Homo sapiens: one gene and its partners. The protein of the gene in region 1 purifies or fractionates together with the protein of each later gene. This does not show direct contact. Each region holds a gene or a part of one and is shown in the gene's direction. Other genes may lie near its edges.

Region 1 (4,472 bases):
ATTATGTGTGCTGTACTTTATACGACTGGCATTACAGTAGATTTGTTTATACTAGCATCACTACAAACATGAGTAATATGTTGCACTACGACATTGCAGTTACTGATGGCACTAGGTGATAGGAATTTTTTAGCTCCGTTATAATCTTATGGAGCCACTGTATATGTTGTCCTTAATTCACAGAAATGTCATTGTGCACGCATTACTGTATTTGCATATGATAAATATTGGAGCAAATAAGTGGTCTTATCAACTGAATTTTCAACTCACTGCAGTCTAGAAGAGTTGGGGTTGAATGTTTTGAAGTGGTATGAAAAATAGTACTTGTGTGAATGAGTTGTAAATGTCTTTTTCAATATATCAGTTAATCATATGTTTATCAAATACTTATGTTTATTCTGTAACTGCCATTATCTGACCTCATCTGTTTAAATATTTGACCTCATTGAAGTTTTCCTGTCCTAGACTCCTTAAAGTCAGATGTACGGTCTTTTGCAGTTAAGAAATCAATATAGCTTTCCCTTTTCCAGTATTTTTTCTTTAAGATAACTTACTTTCCCTATAAGGGAACACCATAAAACTATAAGTTGTTTTAATTACATGAAAGAGAAGAAAATCTAAATAATTTGTGTCAGGAAGCCATGGAAGTTCTCATTTGGGATTTCAGTGTTTCTAAGTAAACTTCTCCTTCTTTGTCACAGTATATGTTCTGTTTATTTAAACAGGGGCCTCAAATCTGACCCTATCGGAAACTCAAAATGGAGATGTATCTGAAGAAACAATGGGAAGTAGAAAGGTTAAAAAATCAAAACAAAAGCCCATGAATGTGGGCTTATCAGAAACTCAAAATGGAGGCATGTCTCAAGAAGCAGTGGGAAATATAAAAGTTACAAAGTCTCCCCAGAAATCCACTGTATTAACCAATGGAGAAGCAGCAATGCAGTCTTCCAATTCAGAATCAAAAAAGAAAAAGAAGAAAAAGAGAAAAATGGTGAATGATGCTGAGCCTGGTAGGTATTTATTATCTTTGAACTTCAGCCATTTAGTTTTTCACAGACGGTTATTGTTCCTCTTTCTATTACTATTGTGTGCACATGACATGAGAATTCCCTGTACTCACCAGTATGTTAGAGATTAGCCTGGTAGCTAATGGAAACATTTTATTGGCAGAAGCGGGGAGTCCATTTCAACTTTTCTCAAAATATTGAGGAATATATTTTTAATTTCACTAACCTTGAAGAAAACCTCTCTCAGAAAAGACTCTCCTTAGAATTCTAGAAATTTTCTCTTCTTTTTAAGTTACCTTTTTTCCTGCTTGATTCTTCCCATTTTCCTTCCATAAATTCCTCCCTTTGAAAGGAATATTAGTTACAAAGTATATAAAGTAGGAAACTTCTGAATAAATGGAACATTAATTTCCAAGTGCTAAGAATGGCAGGAGGAAAAGGAAGGAATGTTTTTTGAAGATGATGGAATTTCAGTAAGCTCGGATGAAAGAATGGACATTATAATTGAGATTTGTATAAGCAGAGATATCAAGGTAGGATAAGATAGGGGTCAGCAAACTATCCCTCCTTCTACCTGTTTTTGTAAATAAAGTTTTACTGGGTCATAGCAATGCCTATTTGGTTGTGTTTATGGCAACAGAGATCATATGACCTGCAAAGCCTAAACTATTTACTATCTGGCCCTTTGCGGAAAGTTTGCCAGCCCCTGAGTTGGAACATCCTATTCATGTATTTTACCTGAAATAAGGGTTTTATTTAGAAAGGGACTTTGAACTTTTCCAAACATGCATTACTGTCTTCATGATGCCTACACACAGAAGTCATTGTAATCCTGTTCTAAAATTATTGCCTTCACAATTCTTGTTTTGAGTATGCCCCAGGAAGTGGTATTATTTCTGCTCCCAAGCATTGAATCACAATGCTGGGCGTTTTAACCTTATGGGTTTTTTGTTTGTTTGTTTGTTTGTTTGTTTTATTATGAGATGGGGTCTCACTGTGTTGTCCAAGCTGGTCTTGAACTCCTGGGCTCAAGTGATCCTCCCACCTCGGCTTCCCAAAGTGCTGGGATTACAGGCAGAAGCCACCACACCCAACCACCTTATGGGTACATTTTAGGAACTATTCCAGGGAAAACAAAATAAGCCATGGAGACCAGCTGAAGATATCTGTGGCTTTTGAACATGTAGGTCCTACAAAGTTGACTCTTTCCTGGAAGGGTGGCCGTCAGGTACAGGGAGGAGACCAGTACTGAGCTACAGAGAGTCCTGGGTTGTGGTCTAAGTTCTTTTCAAACATCACTAATTGCCATATAGTTTTATATAAACACAGCATGTGGTTAATCCATTTGACCCAGAGTCGAACATTGAAAAGAGAAGTGAGAGGTAGGACTGAAAAGGTAGTTGGGGCCACATGAAAGTTGTGAATGTAGAAATGAGGGTGGGAAGAAGCCCTGCCTTTCCTCCCACCCTCATCCCTGATAGCCAAGGCACAGTCCAGTGTATGTCAGCCAGGCAAGTGGGTTGTTGCCCTTCCTTTACAGTCTATCTCTAGTAACATGAAGAGCCTTTGATAGTGATTGGCGTGGGAAGAAAAATGACTACTTATAATGAGTTTTTAAGGATTATGTTAATCAGGTATGCTTCCTTTCCCCTCAGTGGAGTATGTGAAACTTATAATTGGTATGTTTATACTGTTTAGTTGAACAAAAGCCTAAAAGGTTTTGTCACCAAGTCTGTCTGTACCCTGGGTTTTTAAATACAACCACTCATTTTTCACCAAACAGAATTCTTAACAAATTAATACAGCATATACTTAGCTTTTGAAAATATACGTCTTTATATCAGAGATCTTCTGTTTGTTGATCTCATTTGGAATTCTATTTTAAGGAAAAATTTTTTCGGATTTTGTCTTTTAAAACCAAAGATACGAAAAAAGCAAAAACTGAAAACAAAGGGAAATCTGAAGAAGAAAGTGCCGAGACTACTAAAGAAACAGAAAATAATGTGGAGAAGCCAGATAATGATGAAGATGAGAGTGAGGTGCCCAGTCTGCCCCTGGGACTGACAGGTAACGTCCAGGAAGTTTTCTAGAGGTAACTTCTTTAAAATGTGCCTCTCTTAGAGGATTATAGGTTTGAAGGTTCAGTTGTGACTTTCAGTTTACCTGAAAAAAGTAACTATCAACAAGAAACTTTTTTTATATCTTTCTGCTGCTTTTTCTCTTTATCTTCTATTTTGTGGTGTTTTAGTTCTTTTTGTTCCCTGTTTTTTTCCTTTTGTTCATTCCTGACACCAAATATTTTATATGCACACTAGCAGCTTCTAGGATTCCTTGGTTTGTCCTTTTCTGAGTCTCATTCTATGTTGTAATAGGAAAATGATTGGCCCTGTACGAGGTTAACCTCCTTTGGCCTTTGTTCCTTTATAAAGTTGAGTTTAGGCTAGAATTCACTGCTCCTAACCAGATATGTCTAGGAGTTACTTGAGTTGTTTATTTGGTTTGGGTTGGTTGGTTTGTTAAAATGTTGAGGCCCAACCCTAGACCTGCTTAATCCAAATTGCAAACGTTTTGGTAGTAGCTCTCGAGCAGGGAAATTCGCCCCCCGAGTAAGAAGAGTAACTCTTCCTGGTTTGCCCAGAACTTTAACAGTTTTAGCACTGAAAGTTCTGAATCCCAAGAATCTCCTCTGTCCCTAGCCTACTGAGAAGATTGGTCATCCTAAGCCTAGGAGACATTTTTGGTTCTCAGAGCTAGGAGCAGTCTGCTGGGATCTGGTGAGTAGAGGTCAGAAACACTGCATAATATCTTATAAGGCACAGGATAGTGTTTCACAGCAAAGAATTATTCAGCCCAGATGTCAGCAATGCCAAGGTCAAGAGTGATTGGTTTACACCCTGGGCATGTGGAGTATGGGGAACCCCCAGGTGATTTTGATGCCTTCTGCTGAACCACCACTGTATTACTTGATACGTAGGCTCAGCCTAACATTCTGTGGCTGTATCTGACTCTTCTGTGTCTTGTTGGAGTGAGATTAACAGGTTTTTTTTTTATTATTGACTTCACACTCAGTTTTTATTAATGCTCAATGTTTTCACTTTTATATCAGATTTCTTAAACATTTCATTTATCTCTGGACTCTCATTATTTTCCTTGTTTTGGTATTTTTATTTTATATAAATTCCTTGGTTATACCTCCTCTCTACCCCTTGTTTTGTTATAGTATGGTCTCTGGACTATAACTCACACAGCCGTTAACAGTGGAGAAACTTGAAAGATATAGGGTCTTTTTCTTGATATTATCACATATGAATAATTAAGGTTTAGCCTTTTCTTACTGCGGGAAGCTTTTCTAAGCAAAATAGATTTAGGCAACTGTAGCAATACTTTTTTAAAAAAAAAGATAAATTTGCTAATGATAAATTGTCTTCTGTTTAGGAGCTTTTGAGGATACTTCGTTTGCTTCTC
Region 2 (3,500 bases), on another chromosome or scaffold:
AAACCTTAAGTGTTTTTTTATTTTAGCAAACATATTCCTTGCCCTTCACTTCTTTACTCTCGGCAGCTCAACTCTGCTTTTCCATAGAGTTGGTTTTTTGAGCCTCAGTTCTAATACAGCTTGTTGGGTTATTGCTAAACTGTTTCCAAATCATCTTGATTCCTAAGTTCTCGTGTCAATGAAAGTTTTAGTTGCCTCCCATGTGTATTTCTTGGTATTGTAAATGTGTCTGACTATAGCAGTAATGTTCCTCCCTTCCCAGTAGCTACTCTGATAGACTGGGAAACTGATAATCATGATTATTAGACAAACAGCTAAAGCAAACCTAAATAGAGTGTTCTTCCTTGAAAGTACCTGCTCATCCTTGCAGGAACTTTCAGTTTGACTCTTGGAGGCCTTTCTTACTGGTTCTGGAAATGTTACGCATTGAAGACTAATAGATGAACCAAATCCAGATAGATGTTTCCTATTCAGTTTTCTTCATTGTCGTTTTCTCTAAGTTTATCAACAGTATTTTGTATGATTTGACCATAATTCAGAACTCAAACAAATAAGCTTTTTAAATGCTTTTTAAATTTGTCGTATTTATTCAAAAGCGGCCATAATTTCCTGGTGTTTATAAGCTTTCCATCAGGACCATTAATTAGTAACTATCTCAAGGTCACTTCCATCTTCACCTTTTTGTCCACCTTTTATGTTCCTTTCCACTGGTCTCTGACTCTTCTTTCTTCTCTGTGTTCTTGTTTTCCAGATCAAATCCAGAGCAAGGCCTGTAACAATCCTGGTTTCTACATTTACTTAAGTGAACTTTGCTAAAGGCTAAAAATTTCTGATACAAGAATCCATCATCAAAACTTTAGACACATTTGCACCTTCATTGATATAGCTTACTGTCTCTACCAGCTTGACAGTTTTCCCTTTGACTTTCAGATCTGTTTTGAATCTGTGTGTTCACATTTTGACATCATGTTTTAGAACTGTGATCTCGCATGTACCCTCTCTTCCTTAATCCCTCCAGCATTCCTTTTAGTCAAATTGCTATAGAAGAGACCTTAATTTGCATTTTCTAGAGTGTCTCTATTCCAGAGGATAGGTTAGGGATAGATGGCCAGTACACATTTTGAATTAAGTACAGCTGCCTTTTCTGAAGTACAAACTGTGCTTTGCATTGGAAAATGGGTTGTGCTGGCAGCAAAGCTGTGAGGACATCTCTACACCTCCGATGAGTTTGTCCACCTCTTCCCGCTACAACCAGTTTTCTTCCCCACTTTCCCGGTTCATTTTCTGCCGTATCTGTGGTGTGCATCGTCTATTCTTAAGTAGGTTTTCTTTTGGGTCTTTTTGTGTAGGTCCTATTTAATCATAAATGAAAAGCAGGAGGGCTTAGTGTCAAGCTCAGGTAGGAAGGAGAGCAGCAGCCAGAGCCCAGAGGAGCCTGCCCTCCTGGCAGGAACAGGTCATACCGCCTGGGCCACTTCATCTGGTACTGCTGCCTAGGAAACTGGTTTTGGCACCTGGTTTTGCATTAAATTGAAGAGTGTTTTGTTTTTTTAATTTCACGGAGTCACTGAGCAATATCATATTTAAGTGCCCCAGTGATAGTGAACTAGAACCTTCTGGGTCATGACATTACTTTGCCAAGGCAGTGTGCTACAGGAAACCAAGAAGACAAGTGAGTCTGTGACGGTGGAACTCGGCTTCCAGCGTGAGACTCACATTCCTGTGTCTGACCCAGAACCTCCCTCGCCCAGAGCCTCAAGCCTTTACATGGAGTAGTTACATTTTAAAATGCATTTACCATGCCGTTGACAAATGGGACTAGATTTGGCCTACTGCTCACAGAGGATTATTGGGTAGAAGTGGAAATTCCAAAGAAGTGAATTTTAAATTAGTTGGTTTGGGGGTTTGAAATTAAAGAGTTTAGTGTTTTAAATAAGAACCATAGAGCCATTTAATTTCCTACTCTCCCTATGTAGCTTTTTATTTAGAGACAATATAGCTAGAGCAGTAAAGAACATTTTAAGAAGAAAAATCTGAAACCCTGTCACCCTTTTACAGTATTTTTGATTTACATATATTCTTTTAAAATTTTTATTTGTTGAGTTAATTATTAAGATCCTGTGTGTCAAATATGATACGTTCTCATTCATGTGCATATGTGGGGTCTGGAGCTGTGTATCTAGTGATATTTTTTCATGTGTATTTCGTAATCTTCTAAGTAAGTAGCTCATGTCTCTGAAGCAAATGAGATCTATTTTTAAATGAAGAACCCAGAGACCCAGGAATTGCATCTTGAGGGCATAGCGGGAGTAGGGTGAGCTGTAGAATTTAGCTTTCCTTGCAGTCAGTATGCTCTAGGTTGTTTCTACAATTAAGAGAATGTCAAGAGTTCTGGTTCTAAAACATTTACTTGGTTTTAAAATTTAATTAATTTTGTTTACTAATGAAAGAGTTGTAATGAAAAAGTGGGTAGAAAGTCAGTAGTTTCAAAATTGTTTCTTTCTTTCCCAAAAGCCATTTTCCTTTGAGGTGCTGCATAGTTCATGTCTGCGCTCTTTCTTTTAGGAAGAACAGTCTTACTGAAAAGCATCACATTGTTTTTCTAGGGAAGGATCTGTCATCTCGGAGCAAAACAGATCTTGACTGCATTTTTGGGAAAAGACAGAGTAAGAAGACTCCCGAGGTATAAAGCCACGTACAGTTTCCGTGTTCCGCTTTAATACTGTCTGATTTTCACCTGTGTATAGGACTGTTTCTATCTATGACTAGTACTTTTCTGACAAACTTTCCAAAACACTTTGGAGGCTTCATGCACAGCCTAGATATGATCCTTTTCATAATATTAGTGGGTAGATAATGTTTTATAAGGAATCTTTAAAAAAAAGAATAAGTGTTTTCTGGTGTTTGGCTTTTGTTCTTTTTGTTTTGGTGTGAGGACTAGATTAAACTTGGGGAAGAACACCCATTGCCGATACAATCAGAGGGGAAAATATCTCTTCCATGGCCGAGAAGGGGAGGGATTTTGTCTGTTCTGCTCAAACTGCATTACTCCACTTGGAATGGAGGTGGGAGGAAGCATGTCACCTTCATTCTCTAGAACCAGCCTGTCCCATTCTAACAGCATTTGAGACAGCGCTAGATCAGCACCATCTATAAGGGGGTTTGATGGGTATTTCCTCTATTATACAATATTATTTGCCTTACAACTAGAAGAAAAGAATGGGGTGACTAAACTACACCCTCAATGGAATGAACTCCATAATTTATTCTAATTATTAAATTGGGCTGTATAATATTGCAAAGAATTTTTTGTGCTGTTTTGAAGTGTAAGAGACAGCCCTGGATATAGTTTGAGATATATTAGGATTATGGATTTCTAAAGATAACAGGCTAAAAGTATTTAGAACTGGCATTGTCTGAGAAAATCTGGAATATATGGTTGTGACCACTGTTACTCAGCTAATCTGGTATGTTGTACTGATGATCTTTTATTGGTTTGT
Region 3 (2,361 bases), about 110 Mb from region 1:
CTAGTTTGTAAACAAAGATCTCTAAAAGGAAGTGGACACTCTAAGTGATATCATCTTCTTAAGGTGGCTCTTGTGTAGGCTCTTTTAAAACATCCCAGTGGTTGTGTGAGTGTGTTGGTTGAAAAACCAGTCTCCTACTTTGTAGGAGGCTGGTCTGTCAGGGCCCTTCTCTTGCCTGGGGTTCAGAATTTCTGCTTTTGCATTGATGGTAAAAGTTGGCCTTGGTCCTGCTGTTTCTGCCAGGGTAGCATTTGTCAGAGCAGAGTCCAGGCAGCCCCACCATGTCCCCTGGAGCCTGTGGGCAGCATTTCTCCTGGCAGCAGTTCTGAGATTGGTGGTGGTACTGTTGGCAGCCTGACGGTTACCAGAAAAGAGGTATAGAATTTTCTCTCTTTCCCTCTACTCATTTCATTTTCTCTTTTAGTCTGAACAGCAGAAGAAGCAACAGGAGGCTGAGAAACTGCATCGACAAGAAAGGAAAAGACTCCGTCGTTCGGCCGGACACCTGAAGTCAAGACACAAAAGAGGACGGTCGTTTCATTGATTTGGGAAGTGGTCCTACCTGTGATTAGGGAGGGGTACGTCTCCCCCAAACTGATCATCGTTAGGGTGTTAAACACAGACGAGGAAACACACGTTTTTAAAGTTCATGTACGTTCTTGTACACAGAGGTAAAGATTTGAAAACCTGTGCCTTGTGGGTTGGACTTTGAAGCTGGCCCCGCCGACGGCCACCGCACAGCCCCAGGGGTGTGCTTGCGAGTCGTTGCTCCCTGGAAACATTGTCCTTTCCCCACGGCGTTAATCATGAAAACCAGGCTGGGGTTTTTTTAATATTGTGAAATGTACACCATGAAATGAAAGGTTTATCCTGTGCCAGAAACCAAGGTTTATCATGCTCTAGGAACTTTTTTCTTACACTGCCTACCGCCATTCATGATTAAACCATCCAGAAATACCATCCCTGTTTTACCTGGTGTCTGTGTATTGCCTGTGTTTGTGTTTATAAGTTTATGCTGATAGGTTTGTTCGGCTTGTTTATGTATTAGTTTGGGATTTGTTTTTAAATAATTTATACCAAGAGAGTATAATCTAATGGTGCAGGTTGAGAGCATCCCAAATCCGAAAATCTAAAACTGTTTGAGCACTGTATTTATCTGTTCTTGCACTGCTATAAAGAACTACCTGAAACTGGGTAATTTATAAGTAAAGAAAAGAGGTTTAATTGACTCACAGTTCTACAGGTGGTACAGGAAGCATGGCTGTGGAGGCCCTGGGAAGCTTACAATCGTGGCAGAAGGTGAAGCGGAAGCAGGTATGTCCTGCGTGGCTAGAGCCAGAGGAGGAGGGCAAAGGGGCAGATGCTGCACACTTTCAAACACCAGATCTCCAAGAACTCACTAACACAGAATAGCAAGGGGGAAGTCTGCCCCCATGTTTCAGTCACCTCCCTCCAGGCCCCTCCTCCAACACCGAAGATTACAATTTGACATGAGATTTGTGTGGGGACACAGAGCAAAACCATATCAAGCACTGACATGACATTGGAGGAAAATGCTCATTAGAGCTTTTCAGGTTTTGGATTTTCAGATTTGGGATACTTGACTAGTAAATATAATACAGATATTCCAAAACACACAAAAAAACCAAAGTCTAAAAGACTTCTGGTCCCAAGCATTTCAGATAAGGGATACCCAACCTGTAATAATGGGAAACAAGCAGTAGAGGCTGTTGGTTAATCTTGGCACAAGTTTAATTACAGGTTTTTTTTTTTTCCTGTTTCTTAAGTACAGTCAAACATAAACTTACTGGAGGAAACATTTATAAAAATAAATATACTTTCATTTGAATAGCTTCTTTGAGAAAGACTCCAAGAAAATTTTTTTTTCATTAGTCAAACGGTGGTGTGCACTTGTAGTCCCAGCTACTGAGGCTGAGGTGGGTTGCTTGAGCCTGAGAAGTCGAGGCCAGCCTGGACGACAGAGCAAGACCTGCGTCTCAAAAAAAGAAAGAAGAGAACCAACTTTGGTTTCCTTAGTTTTTCCAGCTTTGATGTGATTTTGGAGGTGCCTTTATAGATTTTTAAGGTTCTTTATATACAACTGAAATAGTAACTCTTTGGACTGTGAATGATACAGCCTAATTTCGAATAGCATAAGCCGAGAGGCAGAATGCATTAATTTACATCACCATGCTTGGGACATGGAACTGGCCTCAGGAACACCTAGATCCATGGCTCCACGGTCAGTCAGCTAGCACATGCGCACTCTATCTCTGTTTCCCTCTTTCTCTCTCTCTCCTTCCCCTACTCCCTCCCTTCCTCCTCCTGTCTCACCATTGTTCCTTCTCTCTTCAGGCCTCC
Region 4 (3,500 bases), on another chromosome or scaffold:
CACCTGTCTTTGAATTTTTTAACGAGGGGAAAGAAAACTGCAATTCCTGCCTCCCCATTTATTTAAACATAACACCTAGGATTTTATTTTTGGTAACTACTTAGAATAATATAGTAGGTTACTTATCTTCGGTTAGAAAGAACTATGGAAAATAGGAACCAATAATTTGGAAGTATTATTTCCTTATTTCATATATAGAAATAATTATCTTATTTCCTTATTTCATATATAGAATATTCTAGATACTTGGATGGCTGGGGTTGATGTTCTTAGTATTTATCATAGTTTAGCATTGGTTGTTATTTTTAAGCATCAGAATTTGAAAGCCAATGATAATACCTGATTAGGACTGAAAATAGAATTATCTTAGTAGTTTAGCACTTTTTATAATGGAGTTGGAGCACTGAATTTATTTTCAAATTACCTAGAATTCTGCATTGCTCAAACATTATTCAATTGATTGCAAAATATACCTTGGAAACCCTTTGGATAGAACAGTTCAGAGGGTTACCACTAGTACTTAGAGCCTAAAGTCACTCAGTAGGAGGTTCTCAAAGGTCTATTTGAAGGCAATCCAATTTCTTTAAAATAAAATATTTTTTGCCTTTTAAAACAGATGGGTGAAGAAAGGGACGTATAAATTCTGGGAAACCTCTTATGTTTTCCTCCCATTTCCTTCTATGTCTCCATTAATGTGCTAACTTGAAGGAATTTAACTTCAAGGAAAGTTGACTGATGAAGTTTATGTAGAGCTGTGAATATTATAATTTGTCAATACTTTATTGATAATGTTAACTTTGTTTTTATTTGGAAACATTTTTTCCAGTTGACCAAAGCAGAATTCATTCTGTTCTTCCCTCAAATTCATCTATTAGGATCAATGTGATTGACATTTATCTCCACTCTGCATGTCACTGATATGGTATAGACGCTATAAGCCCTGTAGATATTATGGGTATGAAGACTATTTGAGGTGAATTGGCAGTGAGAGCAAATTTTGGAAACAGGAGAGAGAACTACTTCGTGCCTATAAAAAGCTCTCTCACTCCTTCCCCAAGAAAACAGGAGTCTGAATTTTGGCCAGCTGGGTATTTGAATCTTACTGACTGTTGCAGCACTGGTAGTCCTGGTAAATTTTTTCAGTGGGCGAGCTTTTCTGAAATTTGATTAAACATATTAGTCAAGGGAATCTGTGAATAGATTTAGAAGTAGAATGTTTGAGGTGGTTGACAAGACATTTAGAATTGTGATTAATGTTTTAATAAAATGCTAAGTTAGAATGAATAATCATAATTATATAGATGGAAGATATATTCTAACAGTTCTTAAATAATTTTAGATTCTCTAAATTTAGAGTGTTTTCTAGCTTAGAGAGCAATATTAATATTTTTTACCTAGTCTACTGAACATAATTTCAGGGAGTTAGTATTTAGGACTTTTTACCTAGAGATGCGGTAAACCTTTTAAATTTAAATTTGCTTTCTTAAAATACCTGTTCCAACATTGCTCACCTTTCTTCTCCCTCCTTTTTGCCCTCTCCTTCAGTGGGAGGAGCACATATTCAGCTTTCTGTTAAACACTCTTTGGTTTTCAACTGAGTAAGGCAAGCAAGGATATATGTTAGAAGAGTGGGCATAATACTTTATATTAAAATTATAGGGACTAAAAGTCTAAATCATTGCTGTCAATAGGACTTTTTTTGATGATGGAAATAATTTATGTCTGTGCTGTTCAATATGGTAGCCACTCGCAGAGGTGACTACTGAGCATTTCACGTGTGGCTTGTGATACAGAGGAACTAAATTTTTAATTTTACTTAATTACTTTAAATTTTAAAAGTTACACGTGGCTAGTGGGTCTATCCCAACTATGAAGAGAATAAAGCTACAGAGCATCTATCTAGTCTAATGAAACAACAGTGAATTTGGGAATTGTAAATCTGTCTTAAGCTTTTTCCATAAACTTTTATTGATATAATTTAGGCATATACAAATACTGGTGAAATTTTATTGATTGAATTATTGTTGACTTTTTTTTCAGTATTTATATTTTTAAAAAGATATGTTTCTTTATAATTAACTTGTATTGTAGGGTAACCATTGTCCTTAAATGTTAAGCCACTTAGTTAATAACAAATAGCATTTGGTTTTTTAGCATTATTTATCATCTGAGGCTTTCAGAATTAATGCACCAAACCTTAAATATTTTTGTTGTTCTCTAAAAGAATGGGTTTATGATGCACCAAAAGGACATTTTGAGAACTGCCGGAGCAACAGATACCACCATGTAAGGAGTGAATTCCCATGTTTTTCACTTATATCTAGAGGCCTACTTATTTAGGAGGTTTCCTAAGTAAGTGTATTTAGTTGTAGGACCTTAGAGTTGCCTAGGTCCATTCTATTCTAGCATATACTCAACATACTGCCAGAGCAAATGTAGGTTGCAGATTCAGGCAAAACACACACACACACACACACAAAACCCTGAAGAGCACAATGAGCATTATTAGCACAGCCAATTTAAAATGATGAGGTGTTAACCACATTTGTATAAATAATAGTTTCTCTAACCCTGAATCATTATCCTGCATTTTTAATGCAATCGGTTCATAAACATCAAAGTGAAAACACCAAATTTGTAAGAGGTCAGGACCAACTGGGGCTCTAAATGGAGAGACAGCTGAGAGCTGTGTCCCTATGCGTGGGTGGCCTTGCAGCTGTTGATTCACCCTCAGGCTACCAGACAGTTGCCTCTTTGCATTTGCAGAACCAGACTTCAATCTTAGGTAAAAATGTATCCCTCCCATGGACAGGACATAAACAATAGATTGACATCAGCTCTGAAAACAGTGCAGCAGCCAGACTCAGCAGTTGCCCTGAAATACTGAGAAGTACCAAGCATAACATCAAGACTGTTTCTACACAATAATATTTGTCTTTGTACAGCAACACTGGGTTCTCTTAAGTATATTATAAATATAAAAGCTCAAAGTCCAAAAGGTTCAATGTGATGATATCCTTCTCTACAAATGCCAGGAACACCAGGGTAGATTGCATGAGACATGACTGCCGTATCTTGGTCCTTACTAGGATTCCCAAATATACTCCTTAATAACCAGTAAAGTTATATTTACACTGGACATTTTAAGAAATACCAGTGTTCGTTGTTAGATGAGAGACAGCATAATTTTGGAATCACAACTGAGTTCAGAGTTCAGTTTTGAGTCCTACTAGTTTTGTTTCCTTGTGTAAGTTTCTTAACCTTTGTAAGGCTAGCATGTAAATCAGATACAATAATATATAGTTCAGGGTGTAAAGATTGGATTAATGTATGCAGTGTCTATCTAGCACAGTGCCTGTTATGTAGTAGCGTGTCAAGAGATGTTCTCTCTTATGCATTTGGAGGATTAGGTGCTGCACCTATAGGTTTCCATTCATTTCTCATCTATGTAATTCTGAGTCTTCCTTTTCTAGATAGAATTCCCCCCAACAAAAATTTAA

Evidence for each region. Proteins that work in one complex are often made in the same cells at the same time.
Region 2: the proteins of DDX18 (region 1) and PINX1 purify together in Homo sapiens (co-immunoprecipitation; one large-scale study listed by IntAct). This does not show direct contact.
Region 3: the proteins of DDX18 (region 1) and NOL10 fractionate together in Homo sapiens (co-fractionation; one large-scale study listed by BioGRID). This does not show direct contact.
Region 4: the proteins of DDX18 (region 1) and RRP15 fractionate together in Homo sapiens (co-fractionation; one large-scale study listed by BioGRID). This does not show direct contact.

Annotation. Positions count from the first base shown.
Region 1 is NC_000002.12:117,816,719-117,821,190, forward strand, and holds part of DDX18 (ATP-dependent RNA helicase DDX18), read left to right. Parts: intron 1-725; coding exon 726-1,010; intron 1,011-2,930; coding exon 2,931-3,074; intron 3,075-4,442; coding exon 4,443-4,472. UniProt on the Homo sapiens protein: ATP-dependent RNA helicase that plays a role in the regulation of R-loop homeostasis in both endogenous R-loop-prone regions and at sites of DNA damage.
Region 2 is NC_000008.11:10,819,376-10,822,875, reverse strand, and holds part of PINX1 (PIN2/TERF1-interacting telomerase inhibitor 1), read left to right. Parts: intron 1-2,606; coding exon 2,607-2,683; intron 2,684-3,500. UniProt on the Homo sapiens protein: Microtubule-binding protein essential for faithful chromosome segregation. Mediates TRF1 and TERT accumulation in nucleolus and enhances TRF1 binding to telomeres. Inhibits telomerase activity. May inhibit cell proliferation and act as tumor suppressor.
Region 3 is NC_000002.12:10,570,254-10,572,614, reverse strand, and holds the end of NOL10 (nucleolar protein 10), read left to right. Parts: intron 1-424; coding exon 425-544; 3' UTR 545-1,861; downstream 1,862-2,361.
Region 4 is NC_000001.11:218,333,793-218,337,292, forward strand, and holds part of RRP15 (RRP15-like protein), read left to right. Parts: 3' UTR 1-3,500.